2 linked regions of the Homo sapiens genome follow. The protein of the gene in region 1 interacts with the protein of each later gene in a pairwise test. Each region holds a gene or a part of one and is shown in the gene's direction. Other genes may lie near its edges.

Region 1 (12,238 bases):
GCTGCGCTCAGTCTTTAGGTGGTAGCAGGCCAGGTACAGCGGACACTTGCTGATGGGGGATTCCAGGAGGTGGGATTTCAAGGTAATTTGAGACGGATAGAGGACTTGCTGCTTTACTTCCTCCGCCCTGGGGGATTCCCATTTTCACACAGCCTTTCCCACCAGACCTTTATGTTTGCATCATCTTGCTGCCTTGCGGGGGGCGGGGGGGGGGTGTTCCTGGGTTTTGGGTAGTTTGGAGCTGCTATGGCACTTGTTTAACCTTGTCCCGGGTCCCGAGCTTTGTCCTCAGGCACCTTGGCTCCTGTCCACTAATGCCCAGGCCCTTAAGGACTGGTGTTTTGTTCCTGCTGTTGAAAGGAGATAAAACATAGACATAGACATGAGAGTGGGGAAATGACAGAACTTGCACATTCTGGTGGATGCCAACAGGCACTTATTAGGAGCTCTCTTTCTTCTAGGACCCTGTCCCAGGCGTTTAGCTGTTAAGGTTCTGCAGGATTGTCCTGGCAAGCGTATATCTACTTCACTGGGAGAATACTCAACTCAAGGGTGGAAGAATACTGGGCCCAGAGCCATTCTCTATTACTGGCTCACCCTTCCCCAGGTTAAAGGGTCAGACTTCTGGACCCAGAGATTCGGGGCAGACCAGTAGAGACAGTTGTTAGGGGAGAAAAGTCAGCCCACCAGGGTAGGGCAGGAAAGCTGGACCATAGTGTATGACAAAGTAGATAGATCAGTGCTTTATAATGCAAGGCCTGATTCGTTTAGCTCTGTGCCAAGTACCGAGAGCATAAAAATGATGAACCCTTAGTCACTGACAGCTCACAGTCTCGAGAAGGCAGTCCCCTAGTCAGACAATATCAGAGTATGTAAAATAGCCCCAAGTGGTTTATCCTTATAACTTTATTTTCCTGTGGCAGTGGCAAATAGCCATCCCTATCCTGAGGGCTAAATTTGTGAGATTGTATCATTAGCCAGGATTAAAGCTCTACTTATGTTTAAGGCCTGGAAAGATCCCCTATGGAGGTCTAGGAGAAACCAAGCCTCAGTATGGGTAGGCCTCTTGCCTGAACCCCTCTTGCTCTTCCTCCAGAACTGCCCAGCTCCCGTGGCTTGAGTCTCAGCAAGTGTTCAGTCTGAAGCCCTTCCTGCTGCCCACTGGCATAGAGTTGACCCCAGAAAATCCCTGGGGTTCTTCGGTGAGCTGACAGAGCCCAGTGGGCAGGCACCCAGAGCAGGAGGAGATGTAGCCAAGAACAGGATCCACACTATCCCCTGTTTGGACCCAGGCTCGCATGGCAGCAGCCATCACCCGATGTGAATGTTCTCAGCTCCTGGAGCCTACAGGAGAAAACCCAGATTCCTCAATCTGCTCATTAAGATGTGACACCCACTCACATCATCTCCTCAGCCCATTGCCTCAACAGTTCACGCTGTCAACAGTTCACGCTCCCGTGATTCCAGCTAGTTCCCTGAGCATAGGGGGCTATTTTGTGTCTACATGCCTCTGCACCCCCACCTCTAGGTCCTCTGATTGACTGATTTCTAGTCAGCCTTTAAAACTTCGCTGCCTCTTCTCCACCACCCCCAATCCCCACCCCAGAGCTGGCTGTGTTTCCTTTCTTCTCTGTTGCTGTAGTACTCTGTACATTTTATGCCTAGCACCTTCCACAATTGTGATTCTATCATTGTGTCTCCCTCACAGGAATAGGAGCTCGGTGAATTCAAGGACCATGCTTGCTTCGTTCATTGTATCTTCAGCACCTAGCACAGCACCCAGCACATAGGACATGTTTGTTGACTGAATGCGTATCTCTATCATCACACTCACTCAATGGTGTTGAGATATTTGTGTTTCCCCTTCCCTAGACAGTGAGATCCTTGAAGGCAGCTGCCTTATCTTATTCCTTTTTGTATTTCCATACCTAGCCTAATACCTAGCTTATATAAGGGAACAGAATAAATGAACAATAAAGAAAAGTCTTTACAGCCTCTAAAATGTTATTGATCATCTCCCCACATCTCCTTCATTAAAAAGATGCCTTTCCTTTTATTCTCACCTTTTTAACATAAAAATTTTCAAACATAAAGAAAATATGAAAAAATAGTACTATGAGCATTCATATACCCATCATCTAGATTTAACACAACATTTTGCCATATTTGGTGAATGGATATACAATGTATGTGTTTTCCCCGAACCATTTGAGGTATGTTTTACACAAGATTATACCTTAAATACTTCATTTTGTAACTCCTAATGACATTCCCTATAAAGCCCTAACACTATTATTGCAACTGAGAAAATTAACTATCATTCCCTAATATAATCCTGAAGATAAGCTAATAGCCAAGTTCCACATTCAAGATTCCCCAAATTGTGCCACAATTGTCTTTTACAGCTGTTTCTTTTTTCCCCTCAAACCAGAATATGGTCTGGGTTGAGGCATTTGCTTCTTATGTCTCTAGACTCTATTAATCTAGAAATTTCCACCATTTTTTTTCCCTAATGCTTTGCTATTTTGGACAGAAGAGGTCAGACATCTTGTTGAATGTCTCACATTTTGGATTAGTCTGGTAATGTTCTCATGATCTTATTTTACTTGCTCCTTTGTACCATGTGCTTCTTATAAACTGAAAGATAGGGCTAAGGTTTTGATTTGATTCTGTTTAAACCTTTTGTCAAGAATGCCTCATACTCTGTGCCTGGAACTTGATGTTCCATCACTTCAGGAGCCATCCCACCCTTAGTGATGCTAAATTTGACCATTCGATTAAGGAGATTTCTCCATCGTACAGGTTGTCTTTCCCTTTGCAGTTAACAAGTTATTTGTGGGCTTCTCATCCTGGGTTCTGTTGATGTATCACACTTATTGATTTGCATATGTAGATCCATGCATGCATCCCAGGGATAAATCTCACTTGATCTTGGTGAATGATCCTTTCAAGATGCTGTCGAATTCAGTTTGCTAATATTTTGCTGAGGATTTTTGCATCTATGTTCATCAGGGATATTGGCCCATAGTTTTCCTTGTTTGGCTTTAGTATCAGGGTTATGCTGGCCTTGTGAAATGAGTTTGGAAGCATTCCCTCCTCTTCAAAGTTTTAGAAGAGTTTGAGAAGTATTGGTATTAGTTGTTCTTTAAATGTTTAGTAGAATTCAGCAATGAAGCCATCAGGCCTTGAGCTTTTCTTTGATAGGAGATTTTTGATTCCTGATTCAATCTCCTTACTTGTTATTGGTCTGTTCAGATTTTCTGTCTCTTCATAATTCAGTCTTGGTAGGTTTCATGTTTCTAGGAATGTATGCATTTCTTCCAAGTTTTCCATTCCTCTTGCAATATTCTTTCCCCAATGACTTTTCACCTAATTATTTTAGCATCTATTGATGATCCTTACCTAAGTTGGTTATTTCACTGGGGACTGGAAATTGAGGATTTTCTAATTTTCACATTTTTTGTACACTTATTAGCCAGCATTGCTCTATTTTTTTTTAAAAAAAGCTTTGTCTCATCATCTGGATTGAACAAAAGTTTCTCCTAAAGAGGCAAAAAAATGCTTAATTATTTCCCTTTAATTACAGTTTTCAAAGAGATAATTTGATATAATAGTCACACTAAATAATTTAAATGAGGGCTCTTCCTCAAGCTTATACTCTTCCTCTCTCTCCAATTCATAGATTTGTATTTATTCACTTTTTAATAATTCATCACAGTCATTTTTGGTGCTCAAAATGTCTATATTGCAGCCAGCAGACCCCCTTGAAGCTGGCCTCCTTGTGTCTTTTTGTAACATGCCCATTAGTCTTTAAGCACTTCTTTGCTTTCTGGTACTAGTATTCCAGGCATAATTTGTACTTTTCCTACTCCAGTCATGGAATTCAGCCATTTCCACAGTAATCTCTGCTTTTTTCAAATACCAGTAAGAAAGTATTTAGAAACTAAGACCTGGAATTAGGAAAGCTAACTTCTGCCAGGGTATTGTTGCTTTCAGAGCCTTTCAGTGGACAGAACTAAGAAATATATATATATTTTTTTGTTTGTTTGTTTGTTTGTTTGTTTTGTTTTTGAGACAGGGTCTTGCTCTTGTCGCCCAGGCTGGAGTGCAATGACCTGATCTTGGCTCACTGCAACCTCCACCTCCCAGGTTCAAGCGATTCTCCTGCTTCAGCCTCCTGAGTAGCTGGGATTACAGGCGCCTGCCACTATGCCCAGCTAATTTTTGTATTTTTAATAGAGACGGGATTTCACCATGTTGGCCAGGCTGGTCTCAAACTCCTGACCTCGTGATCCACCTGCCTTGGCCTCCCAAAGTGCTGGGATTACAGGCGTCAGCCACCATGCCCGGCCAAGAAATATGTTTTTTAAAAAACACTTATATCAATAATTCCAATTCAAATTTACATTACAGGATTTTTGCTGTTTACTTCTTTTATTTATTATACTGAAAATCTTGGTTCCTAATAACATTAACATAATTACTTATTTTCTTTGTATTACAATGTGTAAAAATGATTCAAAGTTATAATATTAAATATTAATATGAACAATAAAAACCATTGAGCCACCTGCTTTTAATTTAACAACACAATCTTCTAGGTTTCTCTTTTTTTCCATGATGTTTTTGGGACATTGTACAGGCTGTCTTTTCCCTGCTTTGGATGGTGATAATGAAAGCCTCTACTTTTTTTTTTTGAGACAGAGTCCTGCTCTGTCACCCAGGGTGGAGGGCAGTGGCACCATCTTGGCTCACTGCAACCTCCGCCTCCCAGGTTCAAGTGATTCTTATGCCTCAGCCTCCCGAGTAGCTGGGATTGCAGGCACCTGCCACCATGCCCGGCTAATTTTTGTATTTTTAGTAGAGACAGGGTTTCACCATGTTGGCCAGGCTAGTCTCGAACTCCTGACCTCAAGTAATCTGGCCACCTTGGCCTCCCAAAGTGCTGGGATTACAGGCGTGAGCCACCACGCCTGGCCTCTGCTTTTTTATTAATGTCAATTTTTTTGTCAGATGTAGAACTAAGTGCCTGATATACGTAGTCTCTACTCCAAACTACGAATCATTATTTAGACCCATGGAGACATCCACTAGTTGTATATCCCTTTCCCAGGCTCAAAGGCTTATGCCAGAACAGCATGGCAGAAGACAGGGTCAGAGAGGAAGTTCATGTCTCTGTAATAAATATATAAGAACCCATGGGCCACGCAAGCATAACATGTGCCCCCTGCTAGCACCATCCAAAATATGGTTTGTAAAAGGGTGATGCCTTTAACAAAGTTGAGAACATACCTGTATATGTTTTCAATCTGTCTCAGTGAAAAATCCTTATCTTTTGAATCTGCCCTGGTGTTTTTATATTGCATTATCAATTTGCCCTTTTTGAACCATTTCACATTCATTATCTTGTTCTAGAGGTGAGTCAAAAGAAATCTCACACAGACAGGACCTGGACCCTAGTGTTTTTCATAAATGATGTTTTTGTGTTTGGTACCTTCCTTATTGGTGTCCACCATTTTCTTGGTCTTGGTGGTCAAAATACCATATTCCACCATCTGCAATGATAGACAATGAGTCTGAAAAATCATTCCTGGATTGAAAGCTGTAGTGAGGGTCTCATTATTCCACCATCTTAGTTTGGATATTCTCCTCCTATAGGGTATCATTCGATTAACTGCGCAATCAGTGTAACCAGATTCGATATTTTATGAAAAAAGTAGCCTTGGATGTTTTATGCTACAAATCCTTTTGTTTCTCTAAATCATTTACAAATATGACACACCTGTAATCCCAGCACTTTGGGAGGCCAAGGTGGGCAGATCACAAAGTTAGGAGTTTGAGACTAGCCTGGCCAATACGATGAAACACTGTCTCTACTAAAAAATACAAAAATTAGCCAGGCATGGTGGTGCGCACCTGTAGTCCCAGCTACTCAGGAGGCTGAGGCGGGAGAATCGCTTGAACCCAGGAGGCAGAGGTTGCAGTGAGCCAAGATAGTGCCACTGCACTCCAGCCTAGGCGATAGAGTGAGACAACATATTTAAAAAAAAAAAAAAATTCAGCACTGATTCATGGAACCCAATTACCTGTTTTAAAATGTACCCCTTTATTTCTACCCATTTCTCACAGGTTTATAGCTATAACAAAAGACCTCATCACTCCCAGTTTACAATGTTTTGTTAAAAAACAAAACAAAGCAAAACCTTAAGTGTAAAACTTTTTCAAGCCTCCTTGAAAGGCCACTAAGAGCATATTCATCAGAAACCATACTTCCTCCCTCAAAGGATCCTGATAGGTATGATTTGCCCTCAAAACTATTTGCTTTACATTGGTGATACTTTTTAAATTCCCATTACATGCAAGGCTCTGGGGTAATACTATAATGAAAGAAACCAGCTTGAGTTCTACTCTCAACTCAGTGTTCGGGCTGCTAATAAAATGTGCACACAAGTAGCTATAATACAAATATAGATAAGTGTTGGGAGAAGTAGAAATGATTTTTTCTTCCTAGGAGAATTGCATTTAAGATGGACCTTAATGTGTGACTAGAATTTAGACCCGAGAGAGAGGAGCAAGGCATTCAGAGACAGGAACAGCAAGCTCAAAGGCACAGAGTCCAGAAAGCTTGTGACACTTACAGATAACTATGTCTTTCTGTTTGTTTGGAGCAAAGGATCTGAAAGGAAACCGATGGAAATAAGTTTTGATGCTGGTTACAGCCAGATTCTAAATGAGTCTGAATAAGGAGCTGAAGACTTTGTTGGTTTTTTTTTTATTATGTATGTATGTATGTATGTATGTATGTATTTATTTATTTTTTGAGACAGGGTCTCACTCTGTCACTCAGGCTAGAGTGCAGTGGCGCAGTCATGGCTTACTGTAGCCTCGACCTCCTGGGCTCAAGCAATCCTCCCACCTCAGCCTCCCAAATAGCCTAGACTACAGGTGTGCACGGCCATACCTGGCTAATTTTTAAATTTTTTGTAGAGACAGGGTCTTGCTACGTTGCCCAAGCTAGTCTCGAACTCCTGGCCTCAAATGACCCTCCGGCCTTGGCCTCCCAAAGTGCTGGGATTACAGGCGTGAGCCACCGTGCCTGGTTGGGAGCCGAAGAGTTTGAATTTTATTTAACAGGAAATAGAAAAGCTTTTATTATTATTATTAAAGTAAATCAGTGACATCAAGTAAAGCAGTGACATACTCTAGCTGTTCTTCAAAACATGTAATATGGCACAGAGTGGAGGAGGCTGTAGCCTAAAATATAACATGGGAGGTGGCAGGAGGTGGGAAGACAGAACCCTAGAAAGACTCTGGTTGGGAAATATACCAAAGATGCAGGAGTAAAAAGGGCTACAAATATCTGAAAGGTAATTTAAATTCTTCCTTTAGAACAATTTCCTAGCCTTTCTGTCTGCCAGTGGAAAGTAGCAGGTATTTTATTTTTAAGGGGGAAAAAAAAGAGACAAGATTATTTTCTAAAGGAATTGAATGAGCTCACTACGGAGATCTAGGGATGCGAAAGCAGAGCTGGCAGCCGCAGAGTAAAGCCTTTGCCATTTGGGTAGAGCCCCCAGCTTAATCATTCCCTGCCTGCTCACCCTCATGTGAAGCCTGCCACTTGGCATGCCCCACCTGTGTACATAGAGCCATCTAGGAAGAAAACCAGTGGGAGTGTGCAACTGCAGAGGGAACCCATACAACCCACTAAGAAAAAGCAGCATGTACCTTTTGTCTTCACAGTGAATAGCTGTGGAGTATAACTCCCCACACCCTAAGTGTGGGCTGTGTACAGTGGCCTTCTTCCAAAGAGCACAGTATGGGAGTGGGGATAAAGGGAGTGGTTTTACAGGGGAGAAACCCGACAAACACTACCTCAGATAGGTGATCAAGGTTAGCATCCACAGTGATCATTCATGTTGATAGCATCTACCCTGATAGGATGTGCTGAGAATGGAAATTTACCTCTGTGGTCCTCCCGCCAAAAACCCATAATCCCAGTCTAATCATGACAGAGAACATCAGAAAAATCCCAGTTGAGGGACATTCCACAAAATACCTAACCAGTACTTCTTAACACTGTCAAGGTCATCAAAAACAAGGAAAACTGTCACAGCCAAGAGGAGCCTCAGGAGACATGACAGCTTAATGTGTTAATGTATTGTGGTGTCCTGGATGGGATCCTGGAACGGAAAAAGGGACAATAGGCAAAACTAAGGAAATCTGAATAAAATATGGACTTTAGGTAATAATAATATATAATGAACTAATGAACTAATTGTAATTAGTTCATTGGTTGTAACACATGTACCATACTAATGCAAGATATTTATAACAGAGCAAGCCTGGGTGTATATATATGGGAACTCTCTGTACAATTTTCACAACTTTTCTGTAAATCTAAAACTATTCTAAAATAAGTTTATTAAACCCTTTAATAAAGAAAAAATGAATTATTTCTTAGTCACTTGAAGAAAATCAGTGGCATGAAAGTTAAATGGAAGAACTGACCCCAAAGGATACAGAGGTGATGATGTTGAAACAAAAGACTCAAAAATGTATACTCCAACTAGCACCCTGAGAGTGAACTTAAGATACTGCATCCACAAAACAAGAGTAGGAAGCTCTTAGAAGGGAATTATCTAGGATCAAAAACAGTTCTTAGAAACTAAATAAATAACTACTAAAATTTAAAAATTCTGTAGGAAAGGTTAGAATATAATGTCAAAGAAATCTCTTAGTGTGTAAATTACAAAGACAAAGACAGAGCATATGAAAGAAAAAATAAACATAGAGGACCAATCCAGGTGGTCAGTCAACTAATAGGACTTTGAGACAAGAAATGTAATCTTAGCAAATGACTTAGCCCTGTAGGGAACAGTGTTTACATAGTCATAATAATAAAATACAACTGATTGACTTTCAACTTTCAGTATGTATCTATAGATAAAATATAGAATATTAGTTACCGAATGGAATGAAATATTATGAACCATGGCAAAATGAAATAAAAGTACATCTGATGCAATATGGAAGGTTGGAAATAGGTGAGATGGAAGAGAGAGTAGGACAATAGTGTGTATTAATATATCACGTAGCAAGGAATTGAAAAATACTTTTTAATGTTTATGGAATAAGAAACCACTTAAAGTATATTATTTTAAAACACAAATAGGGCCGGGCATGGTGGCTCACACCTGTAATCCCAGCACATTGGGAGGCTGAGGCAGGCAGATCACATGAGGTCAGGAGTTTGAGACCAGCCTGGCCAACATGGTGAAACTCTGTCTCTACTAAAAATACAAAAATTAGCTGGGTGGGGTGGTGTGTGCCTGTAGTCCCAGCTACTTGAGAGGTTGAGGTGGGAGAATTGCTTGAACCTGGGAGGCAGAGGTCGCAGTGAGCCGAGATCGCACCACTGCACTCCAGCCTGGGCGACAGAGTGAGACTGTCTTAAAAAAAAAAAAAGAAAAAAAGGTCGGGCGCGGTTGCTCACGCCTGTAATCCTAGCACTTTGGGAGGCCGAGGTGGGCAGATTGCCTGAGCTCAGGAGTTTGAGGCCAGCCTGGGCAACACGGTGAAACCCTGTCTCTACTAAAATACAAAAAATTAGCCGGGCGTGGCAGCGTGCGCCTGTAATCCCAGCTACTCAGGAGGCTGAGACAGAAGAATCATTTAAACCCAGGAGGCAGAGGTTGCAGTGAGCCAAGATCATGCCACTGCACTCCAGCCTGGGCGACAGAGTGAGACTCCGTCTCAAAAAAAAAAAAAAAAAAAAAAAAGACACCAAAACCATAAATAAAAGGCTAATAGAAGAACCAAAACTAAAAGAAAATTTGAAGAAGGGGTTATTTAGGGACATAAGTCATAAGTGACCCCAAATACTCATTTTATGTAGTAAGACATGAATAGAGAATGACTACGGTTGGCAAGTGAGAAATAGAGCTATAAGCATATTTTATAGAGCTATGAGATAACTCTCCTAAGAATTAAATGGCTGAAGAGAAGTTACCTCTAGGGAGGAAAGGTGGAATGGGGAATTGTTGATTTCTTTATAAGTTCCCTACTATTTTATTCTAGTTTTTGCTATGTTTATCTATTACTTTAATTTTTTGGAAAAATGTTTTGATGAGCTATTAATAAGTATCCAAGGGAGAAATAATGAGGATGGTTGGAATGGCAAAGAGAGAACAGATGGGAGACCCTGCAAAATGAAATAAGCACTTTATAATTGACTAAATGTGGGGGCAAAAGAGAGAGTGAAAGGACACATCCTAGGTCTTGAGCTTAAGTACATAGAAGAGTGAATAGGGAAAGTAGTTGGGGGGTGGGTTGGAAGGGAAGATAAATGATTGTCACAGGATGGTTGTAATCGGCAATAAGTTGACAATATTCAGGTTTAAAGGATATAAAATTAATATTCATAAAAGATATGGTATCTTTTCCCATTTGAAGGCTATTTCACAAACAGGAAACAATGCAGCCTGCTCCTGGATATAACATAGGCTTTTCAACTCCCCCAAGATCCCCCTTTGGAGATGCATAGTTGCTGCTGACAGCACTCATGCAGAGGGTGGAGTCCTCCAAGCACAAGAAGCTCACCTCTGCACTCGTATAGGGGTTTATATCACCTCCACAGTATCATCCACCTGTTCTGGAATCTCTGGCTATCTGCCTGTCTGCTCAGTGGGTGCAAATAATTGATGCAGAGTCACCCCCAATACATTATGGATAGTCTACTGTGAGACTGTGTGAAAGGAAGGTCAGCTTCCCAGATAGAATGCCTATTGATGGGCCCAGGCTTCAGTCCTGCCTGAGGTCAGGTTCTGCAGAAGGTGAGAAGTTAGATTGTGGACATATTTAATCTGATGCTACATCAGATTGTCCTAGTGGAAATGTCTGGCATGCAGTTAGGAATTGAGGACTGCAGCTCAGGAAGGAGAGGAAGGTGTGGGGCGGTGGACAGGCTGGGGGGTAGATTTGAATTTGATGAGCTTATAGGAGCTGAAGTGTAGAGGTTGCTAGGGGATAAAGTGTCAGGGATAGATTATTGGGTAACACCTACACTTAGAAATGAGGAGAGAGGCCAGGCATGGTGGCTCATACCTGTAATCCCAACAGTTTGGGAGGCTGACGTGGGTGGATCACTTGAGCCCAGGGTTTCAAGACCAGTCTGAGCAACAAGGCAAAACCCCATCTCTACAAAAAAAACAGAAAAATTAGCCAGGCATGATGGCACATTCCTATAGCCCCAGCTACTTGGGAGGCTGAGATGGGAGGATTGCTTGAGCTTGGGAGGCTGAGGCTGCAGTGAGCTGTGTTCATGCCACTGCATTCCAACTTGAGGCAACAGAGCAAGATCCAGTCTCAAAAAGAGAAAAGAAAAGAAATGGAGAGAGAAAGAGGAGACATAAAATGGGGAGAAGAATCAGAAAAGAGTAAGTCACATAAGCCCAGGGGGGAGAGTATCAAGAAGAAGGTGGTCAATAGTGTCAGATCCTGCATCAGGGGCAAGAAGACTGTGTGAGGCCATTCTTGCATTGCTGTAAAGAAATATCTGAGACTGGGTAATTTATAAGAAAAGAGGCTTGATTGGCTCTTGGCTCTGCAGGCTGTATAGGAAGCATGGCACTAGCATCCACTTCTGGGGAGGCCTCAGGAAGCTTACAATTGTGGTGGAAGGTGAAGGGAGAACAGACACATCACATCACAGAAACAGGAGCAAGAGAGAGAGTTGGTGATGGTGGGGGTGGGAGGGAGTACCACATACTTTTAAATGACCAGGTCTTATGAGAACTCACTATCAAGAGGGCAGCACCAAGGGAGTGGTGCTATACCATTCATGAGAAACGACCCCATGATTCAATCACCTCCCACCAGGCCCCACCTCCAACACTGGGGATTACAATTCAACGTGAGATCTGCCTAAGACATACATTCAAACTATATCAAGGACCAAGATGGAGAAGAGACACCTGGATATGGCTACAAGTTCTTTGATGGATGTCTAGAGACACAGAACAAGCTGGAGCGAAGGTTAGGAAAAGGGAGAAGGAGTTGCCCAACGGAGGTCTAGAGAAGCTTGATTGGATGAACTCTATCCTCTCCATCCAGTCTGAGATAGAATCATCTGCAGGCAGTAAAGCAGACATGGCCGACCTTGGGAAGATTGGGAAGCTCTGGAATAAGCATTAGAGAGATTGAGAAATTATACTGCCCGGCCGGGCGCGGTGGCTCACGC
Region 2 (12,238 bases), on another chromosome or scaffold:
TTCCATCTCTCTTATTTAGAAGAATCTTCCTTTTAACACAAAGACCTCCTCAAATCAAATTTCCTAAGTGAAATCTGAGGAGTAATTAATAGGGCGAGGCTGTGAGTTTAATTTCCAGTGTTTTTATGTGATTTATGTTAAATGTCCAGATTAAAAAAATAGAATGAAAATATTTTAAAAGTTATAAAATATAAACATTTAGCTGCATGTTGTAATACATGGTTGCTTTGATTATCAAGTCCTATGTTGAAAGCCTAGTGGGACAATAAATCTAGCTGCATTTGGCTGGCTTTTGTTGTAGTTGGAGCTGTTGCTGAGGCAGTGTTGGCAGATGTAATCTCTTGTGTAAGAGTTGTTTTGGACAGGCCTTGACTCAGGCTGAACCCAGAGTAGCGCCTGACTCTTCTGCTACTCACGGCTCAGTCACGTAGGAGTGGGAAGTGCTGCACCTGCTGGGAGTACAAGAGGGCCCACAGTCTTGGCCTCTGATACTCTGTGTGCCTGATATCTTGTTCTTTCACGTTAGCCACTTGTGTGTATTATTATCTTGCTGAAAAGACAGGGGACAGCACTTGATACTGCTAATTCTAGATTTAAAATTCCTTGGGGCAGTGACTGGGTTTAATTGCTACTGAATGCTTAGCACCTAGCACGTGGTAAAAACATTTTGATGTTAAAAGTTCCCAGGATACCCTGGTAGCATTGTTATTTTACAGATACAGCTAATTTGTTATGCATAACTTTAAAGATGCTAAAGAATTCCTTTATGATTTTCCCCACTTAATCAGGTTTTCAAGCTAGAAATGCCCTTCTTCAGTCAAATCTTTCTCAAACTCAGCTGGCTACTATTTGGTAAGTTTGTCCCTTAATTACATTTGATTAATTTAACTATGCATTAATTAATTAAACTCTCTCTCCCCTATTACAAGAAAGATACTGTTTCTGTAAAAGTTTGTGACTCAGAGATGCTCTATAAAAGCAGCCATTTGAAAGTTAGTATTAAGCTTGGAGGCAAATGTAATTGTGCAGAATGTTGTTGTACCCTTAAGCTACACCAAATTTACAAAAAATATTTTCTTCAACAATAGATTAATCTTGGCATACAATAACTTTTTAACTTTGTAAACCTTTTAATTTTTTAAAACTTTTTGACTCTTGTAATAACACTTAGCTTAAAACACAAACACATTGTACAGAAAGATATTTATATCCTATTCTTTAAGCTCTTTCTTGTTTTTAAAATTTATTTTTACTATTTAAACTTTCGGTAAAAACTGAGACACAAAGACACCCATTAGCTTAGGCCTGTAGAGGGTCAAGATCATCAGTATCACTATCTTCTACCTCCACATCTTGTCTCACTGGAAGGTGTTCGGGGCAATAACACGCATGGAGCCATTGTCTCCTATGATAACAATGCCTTCTGGAATTTCTCCTGACTGACCTGCCTGAGGCTGTCTTACAGTTAACTTTTTTTTTTCTGTAAGTAGAAGGAGTATACTCTAAAATAACAATAAAAATAAAGTATAGTAAATACATAATCCAGTAATATATTAACAGATGTTTATTGTTATTGAGTGTATGTACTGTAGATAATTGTATATGCTGTACTTTTCTACAGCTGGCAGTGCAGTATGTTTGTTCAGACTAGCATCACCACAGACACATAGGTAATGCGTTGCTTTATGACAGCTACAGTGTCCTTAGGTGGTAGGAATTTTTCAGCTCCATTATAATCTTATGGGACCACCATTATAAATGCAGTCCATTGTTGACTGATATGTCATTATGCAGTTCATGACTATATTTTACTAGAAAAACTGTTGTTTTCTTTCATCTAATCCCTTCTATGGAGAATCAGAGAATATCTTGTTTTTAATATAGGTAAATGTGATTTGGTAGGTGAATTAACCATGGAGTAAGACAAGCCACTTTCTCAGAAGGGGTAGTTACTTCTCTTTCTGTTTCAAAGTTTCTTCCCTCTCTTTTATGTCTTGAAAATCAACGGTAAAAAATTAATTCACTATTGAAGTACATACTTACATACTTACATTCAATAGTGAGTTACGTAAATGTACGTATTTACATTTCACTAAAATAAGTGTACCCAGCAGTTTTACCATCATTATCCTTCTTTTAAAAATAAAAAATTGGCCGGGCCCAGGTGGCTCACGCCTGTAATCTCAGCACTTTGGGAGGCTGAGGCGGGCGGATCACGAGGTCAGGAGATCGAGACCATCCTGGCTAACACGGTGAAACCCCGTCTCTACTAAAAATACAAAAAATTAGCCAGGCGTGGTGGCGGGCGCCTGTAGTCCCAGCTACTCGGGAGACTGAGGCAGGAGAATGGCGTGAACCCGGGAGGCGGAGCTTGCAGTGAGCTGAGATCGCGCCACTGCACTCCAGGTTGAGCGACAGAGCTAGACTCCATCTCAAATAAATAAATAAATAAATAAATAAATAAAAGTAAAATAAAAATTGAACTTTTAAGGCAATATTTTACTCCAAATAGACTTTATTAAGTTGTGAATTTTAACATTTTCTTTAGGACTCTGGCTGACGTTGATGGTGATGGACAGCTAAAAGCAGAAGAGTTTATTCTTGCAATGCACCTTACTGACATGGCCAAAGCTGGACAGCCATTACCACTGACTTTACCTCCTGAGCTTGTTCCTCCATCTTTCAGGTGAGTGTGCCTGGAGGTGGAGAACTATGGTTTTGATAACTTGGCAGATGTGATTTAGAAGAGAGTTAAATATTTGCACTGCCATTGATTTTAGTATTCAACAAGTTATACTTGAAAAGGGTACATATTAGAAGTAGGTGTGGGCCAGGCGTGGCAGCTTACGCCTGTAATCATAACACTGGGAGCCAAGGTGGGAGGATCACATGAGGCCGGGAGTTCAGGACCAGCGTGGACAACATAGTGAGACCCCGTATCTACAAAAATAAAAATAATTAGCCAGGTGTGGTGGTGTGCGCCTGTAGTCCTAGGTACTCTGGAAGCTGGGGCAGGAGGATCACTGGAGCATAGAAGTTCAAGGCTACAGTAAGTTGTGATTATGCCACAGCACTCTAGCCTGGGCAGCAGAGCAAGACCCTGCCTCAAAAAAAAAAAAAAAAAGAAGTGGATGTGTTTTCATTATGTTATACATAAGGAGGCTAATGACTAAAGAGATAAAGAAAAACTTGCCCAAGAACCAAAATTAGCTGAACTGTGATTTGAATCCAGATTTCTCTGTCTTGAATATCCATATACTACTGTATTTTGTAACGACATACCAAACTGTTTTAAATATCTTTAATACTGTATTCCCAATATCAAATTGCCATAATCACTGGTAGTCTGTGTAATCTAGTCTGAAAATGTCCAGACTACATGATGCTAACTTTGTTGTTTGATTTTTTTAGAGGAGGAAAGCAAATTGATTCCATTAATGGAACTCTGCCTTCATATCAGAAAATGCAAGAAGAGGAGCCTCAGAAGAAATTACCAGGTATCACTGAGTGTCAAAGTTGTATATTTATACTGAGTTCTTTTAAATTCTACCTTTAAATGTAATGGAATATTTAGAATTTTTATATTTTTAATATTTGATGTGCTATATGAGAAAAAACTATTTGATAGATGGGATGTATTTTGGTATTGATAAAATTAAGATGGTCAAAATGAGAAGAGTGTGAAGGAAGAAGAGACAGTTAGATGTATTTGACAGGATTATAGACATCTGAGTTAAAGTATTTCTCCTAATTTAGGCTGAGTTATTAGAGGAAACTTTGTAATGAAATCTTTACCTTTAAAAACATTTAAATATTGGTTGAAAGAATACATTTGTAGCTGTTTTAATATATTAGGATGTTAATGACATCAAAACAAATGTATAACCACACAGCTTTGATTGTCCTTGAAGAAGAGAAAAAAGTTGAAAAAGTTTTTTTTTTTTTTCCTTGTTGCCCAGGCTGGAGTGCAACAGCACAATCCCGGCTCACTGCAACTTCCGCCTCCTGGGTTCAAGCGATTCTCCTGTCTCAGCCTCCTGAGTAGCTGGGATTACAGGTGCCTGCCACTATGCCTGGCTAATTTTTGGTATTTTTAGTAGAGATGGGGTTTCACCGTGTTGGCCAGGCCGGTCTTGAACTGCTGACCTCAGGTGATCCGCCCACCTTGGCCTCCCAAAGTGTTGGGATTACAGGCATGAGCCACCACACCCAACCGAAAAAGTATTTTTATTGGCAAGTTTATAAAAATTATTTCTCTCTTGATTGGATTCAAACTTAAAAATTTGTTTTTCTAAAATTGAATATCCTTGAAGAAAGTAGATATTTTTCCACTTAGATTTGAGTTAAAATTATCCTTAGGAGAAGTATTCAAATACTGATAGCACTCAAATGATCACAAGGCATAAGTATATAGAAACTAGATTACAGGTTCTGTAGGCTGTTAATGTGTGTGGATGCTGATAGGCATACCTTGTTCAGTTACTTTTGAGGACAAACGGAAAGCCAACTATGAGCGAGGGAACATGGAGCTGGAAAAGCGACGCCAAGCCTTGATGGAGCAGCAACAAAGGGAGGCAGAACGTAAAGCCCAGAAAGAAAAGGAAGAGTGGGAACGAAAACAGAGAGAATTACAAGAACAAGAATGGAAGAAACAACTTGAATTAGAAAAACGCTTAGAGAAGCAACGGGAATTGGAGAGACAACGAGAGGAAGAAAGGAGAAAAGACATAGAAAGACGAGAGGTTATTTTTAAGTTTTTTACTTCTTAAGAAAATCATTACATTTAATAAGTGACTATATTTCATTTGATTAAAAAATGCTTATTTTTGAATTTTTGTTTTGCCTTTTGCTCTGCATCATTTCATTCTTACCCTATACAAATCTGATCATTCCTTCCCTTGAGGAGGGAAAGAGGCTTCTTGCTTATAAGGAGTTTTCAGAACTGGTACGTGGTAGAGAAAGCATCCTCTGCAGGTGATATCTCAATCAAAGGAGGATCGACTGCAGAGCTAAGTTGAGTGAGGAGCTAAGGTTAGTTAGGCAACTGAGCAAGTCATTAGACGAAAGCAAGTTTAAGATCCAGATTAAGAGTCCAAGGAATTGGAGAGACAGAAAGATGAGAGCTGGGCATTGAAAGTCTCTCTAGAGAGGAATCAAGAGGATGGGCTTGCACAGGCCTTTGGGATAGTGTTGCTGGGAAAGAAGGGTCCTTAGGAGGACTGGCTGTGTTTTAAAGGGCCAGGGATGGAGCACAGGAAGTTATTGCACACTGAAATAATATAAATAGAATTTTTCCCCCAGATACCAGAATAGAGGGAAAATTATTCCTGTTAACATTTATATTTATGAAGTCATTCTGTAACTTATTAAGAGAAAAATGACTGTAACAAAAGGATGGTCTTCCAACCTGGGCAACATGGTGAAACCCTCTCTCTACAAAAAGTACAAAAATTAGCCAGGTGTGTGGTGGTGTGTGCCTGTAATCCCAGCTACTTGGTGGGGCTGAGGCAGGAGAATCGCTTGAGCCCAGGTGGTGGAGGTTGCAGTGAGCCAAGGTGGTGCCACTGCACTCCAGCCTGGGTGACAGAGCAAGATGCTGTCTGGAAAAAAAAAAAAAAAAAAAAGATCTCGTGAAGAAATGAGAAAATATGATAGATGAAGCCACTTTCTTGGAAGTCTTTAAGCCCATTAATAAAACTAGATTTGCCTAGCTACCCTTAGGCACTAAAGCCACTAAGTGCTAAACTCTGCCTGACTTTTATTGTTGTCTTCCCAGTTTTTGAATCGTGCAAAATTTTTGATTTAAAAATTAAGTATAATTCCTTTTTTTTTTCAGGCAGCAAAACAGGAACTTGAACGACAACGTCGCTTAGAATGGGAGAGAATTCGGCGACAGGAGCTTCTCAATCAAAAGAATAGAGAACAAGAAGAAATTGTCAGGTTAAACTCTAAAAAGAAGAATCTTCATCTTGAGTTGGAAGCACTGGTATGGCTGAAGTTTAAGTGAAATTTATCTGAATGATGATGGAGCTACCTGTTGAAAAATGTAATTGTGGGCCAGGCGTGGTGGCTCACACCTGTTATCCTAGCACTTTGGGAGGCCAAGGCAGGCAGATCAACTGGGGCAGGAGTTTGAAACCAGCCTGGCCAACATGGTGAAACCCCATCTCTACTAAAAAAAAAAATTAGCCAGCTGTGGGCTGGGCATGGTGGCTCACTGTAATCCCAACGCTTTGGGAGGCTGAGGTGGGTGGATCACGAGGTCAGGAGTTCAAGACCAGCCTGGCCAATATAGTGAAACCCCATCTCTACTAAAAATACAAAAATTAGCCAGGAGTGGTGGTGTGCGCCTGTAGTCCCAGCTACTTGGGACACTGAGGCAGAAGAATTGCTTGAACCTGGGAGGCGGAGGTTGCAGTGAGCTGAGATCGCGCCACTGCACTCGAGCCTGGGCAACAGAGTGAGACTCCGTCTCAAACAAACAAACAAAAATTAGCTGGCCGTGGTGGGTGGTGGTGGGTGCCTGTAATCCTAGCTACTTGGGAGGCTGAGGCAGGAGAATCACTTGAACCCAGGAGGTGGAGGTTGCAGTGAGCCAAGATCGCACCACTGCACTCCAGCCTAGGTAACAGAGTGAGACGCCATCTCAAAAAAAAAAAAAAGAAAAATGTAATTGTGTTTTAAAATCTCTCGTGAATTAGTTATGTCTTAATGTCATTAGTCACATTTTCATATAAACAGACTGTACAATATGGTTTACTGAGAAAAGGATAATGACTCAAAATGCTGAGAATTATGTTGTAGCATCAGTTCAGACACTGATGAACCATGTACTCCTGGGCAAGACATTTCCCTTCTCTGTGCCTCACTTTTCCCTTGTCTGAAATAAAGAGTTGTGTTAGTTGAGTGATTTTCAGTTTTCAGATTGGTCTCTGTAAGATGGTCTGAGGAGGACTAAGCAGAGGCAGGAGAGGGGAAGCTCGGGCAGCAGAACAGTGATTTTCTCTCCCTAATTCTTCCCACGCTTCACAACAGAGAAGCTTGACATTTATGTGCTTTATGTTTCTTGGGGTTTCACTCAAGATTTGCTTGGAAAAAAAAAGATTCTACTATTAAAAAGACAACTGATTTGAAACTGCTGACCTAAATGATCTCTTACAGTTCCAGTTCTGCAGGATTGTAGTTCTTAGCTAATACTGGCCACTAAGCAGTTTTTACCAATCAGATGTTAGAGGGTCAAGTTGTTAAAAGACTTTGTTTGAAATGTGTGGTGAGAAGGTATAAAAGATCTGGCACTATTCTGCCACAACCCTAGAATCCCATGAGCCTACCCTGATCATATAGTAGGGTTTTACAAAAATGCATACCTAGTCATGTAGTAGAGCCAGATTTAGATCTTGTGTGATCATAGTCTAACATTTTATTTGGTTGATGACTTGAATTACATTAAAAATTATTTTTTTAATCATCACAATATCTTTAGTCAGAAATATATTATTTTATTCCTTCAAATGGATAGACATACATACCACAAGTATTAATCATGCCAGAGTACTACAAAACAGTTGTAAAAAACTTTTAACTCTCTTGCACTATTTTTATATATATATATCATCTTGACTATATATAATGGGAAGAGACCTTAAGATTGATTGTTTTTCCCTCAAGAACTGGTGCAACACATGAAGCACAGTAACACAGGTGAATGTGCAGAGTCTGGAAAGGTCCAGAGCCTATACGTATCCCATGTTGAGGATAAGAATGTGAGCTCCAGCAGAGATACACATGTTCCTTTCAGTGTATGTATTTCAAATATGAAACAGTCTTCAGTAAAACTTTTCATCATCAGTAAGTTTTAACCCAGGATGTCATTTCCCCTCACTCCACTGTATTAGTTTGGTAGGGCTGCTGTAACAAAATACGATAGGCTAGGTGGCTTAAACAACAGAAATTAATTTTTTCACAGCTCCTAAGATCTAAGACCAAGGTTAGTTAGGCTTAGTTTCTTGTGAGGCCTCTTTTGGTGGCTTGCAGGTGGCCATCTTTCATTGTGTCCTTATATGGTGTTTTCTCTGAGTGTATTTTATCTCTGGTGCCTTTTGTGTTCAGATTTCCACCTCTAATAAGGACACCAGTTAGATTGGATTAGGGTCCACCTGTATGACTTTGTTTAACCTTAATCACCTCTTTAAAGGCCCTGTCTCCAAATATTGTCACATTCTGAGGTACTGGGGCTTGGGACTTTAACATATGAATTTTGGGGGACACAGTTCAGCCCATAACCCCCCATGTCACCCTTCTTCTTAGGTCCCATTGAGAATCTCTGCTATTTGTTTGATTTCTTCACAGAAGAAGAGGAAAAAAGGAGAAGAATATTAGTATAGAACAGAACTGTTGCCAAAACGTTCCTCCTGGGCACTGTTTTAATTAGAGGAAATTAGATGGCCATATTTAGGGTAGAAATAGAAGTTCAGAGAAGGTAATGCCGAGCATCACATGCAAACATTTATTCCTCTTCATCATTCTTTGAGAGTGTCTCTGATATTAATATTGTTAATTAATATTGTCTAATGCTGAATTCAGAAAAAAATTCAATGTGTTATGTTTCTGCTTTCCCATACTAACATATGGGCTCTTGCACTCTGAGAATGATGTGTTTCCCACTAATAACTCGAGTTAACAGACACAACTCTGAAACACATTCCACTTGGTTTTAGGCATTTGTTTCAGGATGAATATGAATGATAACTGAGATTTTAAAATTTAACTAAAAATATTATTCTCCTTGTAGAAACATTTTCTATTAGCATTTTATGTTACTATATATTTATATGATCTTCCTATAGAATGGCAAACATCAGCAGATCTCAGGCAGACTTCAGGATGTCCGACTCAAAAAGCAAACTCAAAAGACTGAGCTGGAAGTTCTGGATAAGCAGTGTGACTTGGAAATTATGGAAATCAAGCAACTTCAACAGGAACTTCAGGTAAGTCCTTCACTGCTAAATTGTTCTTAAACATGTACAATTAATAGTTCTTCTGGGCTGGGCACGGTGGCTCACGGCTGTAATGCTAGCACTTTGGGAGGCTGAGGCGGGTGGATCCCCTGAGGTCAGGAGTTCGAGACCAGCCCAGTCAGCAGGGCAAAACCCCGTCTCTACTAAAAATACAAAAAAATTAGCTGGGTATGGTGGCGCATGCCTGTAATCCCAGCAACTCGGGAGGCTGAGGCAGGAGAATCGCTTGATTCCGGGAGGCAGAGGTTGCAGTGAACCCAGATCGCACCACTGTACTCCAGCATGGATGATAGAGCGAGATTCCATCTCAAAACAAAACAAAACGAAACAGTTCTTCTAATAGAGTTTTGTTTTGGGGGTCAATAACCTTGAGTCTTTGATAGGCTTGTGATCTAAATACACGCAATCCTGTATACAATATCAGGAAGTCCATAGACCTACTAAAACTCTGCTAGACGTCTGGTTAAGTTTTGCTTAATATATATACGTAAGTGGACATTTATCACTTTGAGTTTTAACTCTTTAACAATGTTTATGCATTCTTAATTCATTACTTGCTATAACAAACGACCTTAGACTGGGTAATTTATAAACAACAGAAATTTATTACTCATAGTTCTAGAGACTGAGAAGTCCAAGATCAAGGTGTTAGCAGATTCAGTGTCCGATGAGGGCTTGCTGTCTCCTTTAAAACTAGTGCCTTCTTGCTGCGTCTTCACATGCAGAAAGGGTAAGGCAGTCCCTTCAACTTCCTTTATAAGGACAGTCATCTCATTCATGAGTGTGGAGCCTCCTAAAGCCCTACTTCTTAATAGTACTGCATTGGGAGTTAGGTTCCAACATATGAATGTTGGGGACATACCAACATTCAGACCATATCATACATTAAAATAAGGTTATTGCTACTAATTTTAGGAAATTTTGACTTAAAGTTATTCTTTTTAAAATTATGATGAGAACTTGAATATGTCCCTTGGGGTCCTGGTAATTCTCTTCCTTACTTGTGCAGTAGGGTCTGGTTCAATAATTACTATTTGCAGAATGGGGCTGTGGAAGCATTCTGCATCTCTAGAGTTCTCTTACCCAATTTCTCTTACTGCATGGACTGGCAATTAATCAGTCTTTTTGCTTTGTTACAGGAGAGATAAACAAAAGCCAAAAATATTTTCTGTCTGATTTAAACCTGCTTTCCTAGTTTTTAGTCCTTTTTATTTTTTCCTCCCTCTGTCACCCAGGCTGGAGTGCAGTGGCATGACCTCAGCTCACTGCAACTTCTGCCTCCCAGGCTCAAGCAATTCTCCTGCTTCAGCCTTCTGAGTAGCTGGGATTACAGGCACCCACCACCACGCCTGGCTAATTTTTGTGTTTTTCGTGGAGACGGGGTTTCACCATGTTGACCAGGCTGGTCTTGAACTCCTGACCTCAAGTGATCCACCTGCCTTGGCCTCCCAAAGTGCTGAGATTACAGGTGTGAGCCACCGCACCCAGCTTTTAGTCCCTCTTTGATATACACATATTCATCCTGAAGTATCATGGCATGCTTACACATACCATCTAGCGCAGGTCTGCTGTCATTCATCAGTAAGCTGAAAATTGTAGGCTTCTAGACACACCCCATTTACAAAGGCTTTCTTCACTGCCTTTTAATTTCAGCCAGTCACTCAAAATTGATTTTGGCTTAAATATTTCTTGGCATAATTCCATTCTAGTTGATTCATAAGTTGTAAGCAGTTTACAACTATGTATTATTTCTAAAATAAGTTTCAAAGATGAGTAAATCCTGTTTTAAAGTTTTCAAAAAAAACTCTTGGACAATATTATAACATTGTAATCAGGTACTATTTTTTCTTTTTATAAGGAATATCAGAATAAGCTTATCTATCTGGTACCTGAGAAGCAATTATTAAATGAAAGAATTAAAAACATGCAGTTCAGTAACACACCTGGTAAGTCTCTAAGGTTTGTCTGATTACTTTTATCCTTTTCTGAATGACTGTATCAGTCACATTGTTACTTTTTTAAAATTAAAAAAAGTATTCTGTTATAAATAACACTTTTTGCCTGTAAGTTTAAAGTTTCAAAATAAAGTGAAAAATATCCCAGATGTTAGAGCATTTTTAGTGATAAAAAGTAGATAAAAATAAAATAGTAATGATTGTGGTATGACTTCATATCTTGATGATATTTTTATGTATATAATTGAAACATCAAATAAAGTGTTAGACTATAAGATATAAATTTGGCTCTAACACAAGACTACATGTGCATTTTGAAAAGTCCTGCACTGATTTTAAAGAACTGTTCAGGAGGAGGCTTTATGGTGGGGCCGCACCTGGGATTCTAGGGTGTTAGCGTGCAGCAGTCATAGGCTTAAGCAGGATGGTATGCTCTGCCCAGACCCTTTATATTATCTAACTCTGTGCTTCATACAAAGAATTTTACCATCTTGGCCCTCTGACACCTGTGGAACAAAACATTCCAGGATAATTTATGGGATAGTAACTGTTTTTGTTTTTGCTCAGGTCCCAATGAGAAAACTGAAAAAAATTCTCTGTATTGGATACTATACCAATAAAAGCATAGCAGAAACAAGGTTTATTTAAAGAAAAGTAAATCTGCAGATGTTGTGTTACAACTGACTAAAGTATCCTAAAATGTCACTCATTGAGTCTCTATCAAGTCAATTATTCCATTGTAGGTCTCTTTATTATAGTTTTGGCTGTTTACAAAGTTCAATAAATAGTATCCCCTTCTTTGCGCAAGTTCTGAACAAATTAAGAAATAAGGCAAAGGAGCAAGACAAATGAGAAACCAAATCACTGCCTCATTATTGATGAAGCTGATTCTAGGCAGTGTGGTTTATCTGTGGGTGGTATAGTTGCACCTATAAAGCACTGGATGCATGAACAAAGTAGAATGCAGGTTTCCTGTGGGCAGTTAAGTCTCTAGAGAGTGAGGGCTTAGGAGGAGCCTAGGCTGTACATTCCTAGGTCTTTAACTTGAGCTCACTAGTTAGTGAAAGGAAGGAAAGAAGCTGGGATTGTTGGGCTAGTGCAGGGCCCTTCACGTGGAAGAAATATCAGAAATGAAGTTCACTCTTGTGAACTATTTTTATTGTGTCTCCTGCCTTCCATTGATGTGGTCTATCCATGTCCCTGCTCAGACAGTGTTCCTTATACTTGGTTCTTTCCTGTTCAAAGTATATTAGCCCCCACCTCACC

What was found.
Region 2: the proteins of LARP6 (region 1) and ITSN2 interact in a two-hybrid assay, tested with the Homo sapiens proteins (2 studies listed by BioGRID, with this or other methods).

Annotation. Positions count from the first base shown.
Region 1 is NC_000015.10:70,841,191-70,853,428, reverse strand, and holds part of LARP6 (la-related protein 6), read left to right. Parts: exon of another isoform or gene 1-82; intron 83-1,708; coding exon of another isoform or gene 1,709-1,790; exon of another isoform or gene 1,791-1,983; intron 1,984-12,238. UniProt on the Homo sapiens protein: Regulates the coordinated translation of type I collagen alpha-1 and alpha-2 mRNAs, CO1A1 and CO1A2. Stabilizes mRNAs through high-affinity binding of a stem-loop structure in their 5' UTR.
Region 2 is NC_000002.12:24,292,413-24,304,650, reverse strand, and holds part of ITSN2 (intersectin-2), read left to right. Parts: intron 1-788; coding exon 789-852; intron 853-2,548; coding exon 2,549-2,686; intron 2,687-3,411; coding exon 3,412-3,497; intron 3,498-4,479; coding exon 4,480-4,742; intron 4,743-5,836; coding exon 5,837-5,986; intron 5,987-8,846; coding exon 8,847-8,987; intron 8,988-10,875; coding exon 10,876-10,963; intron 10,964-12,238.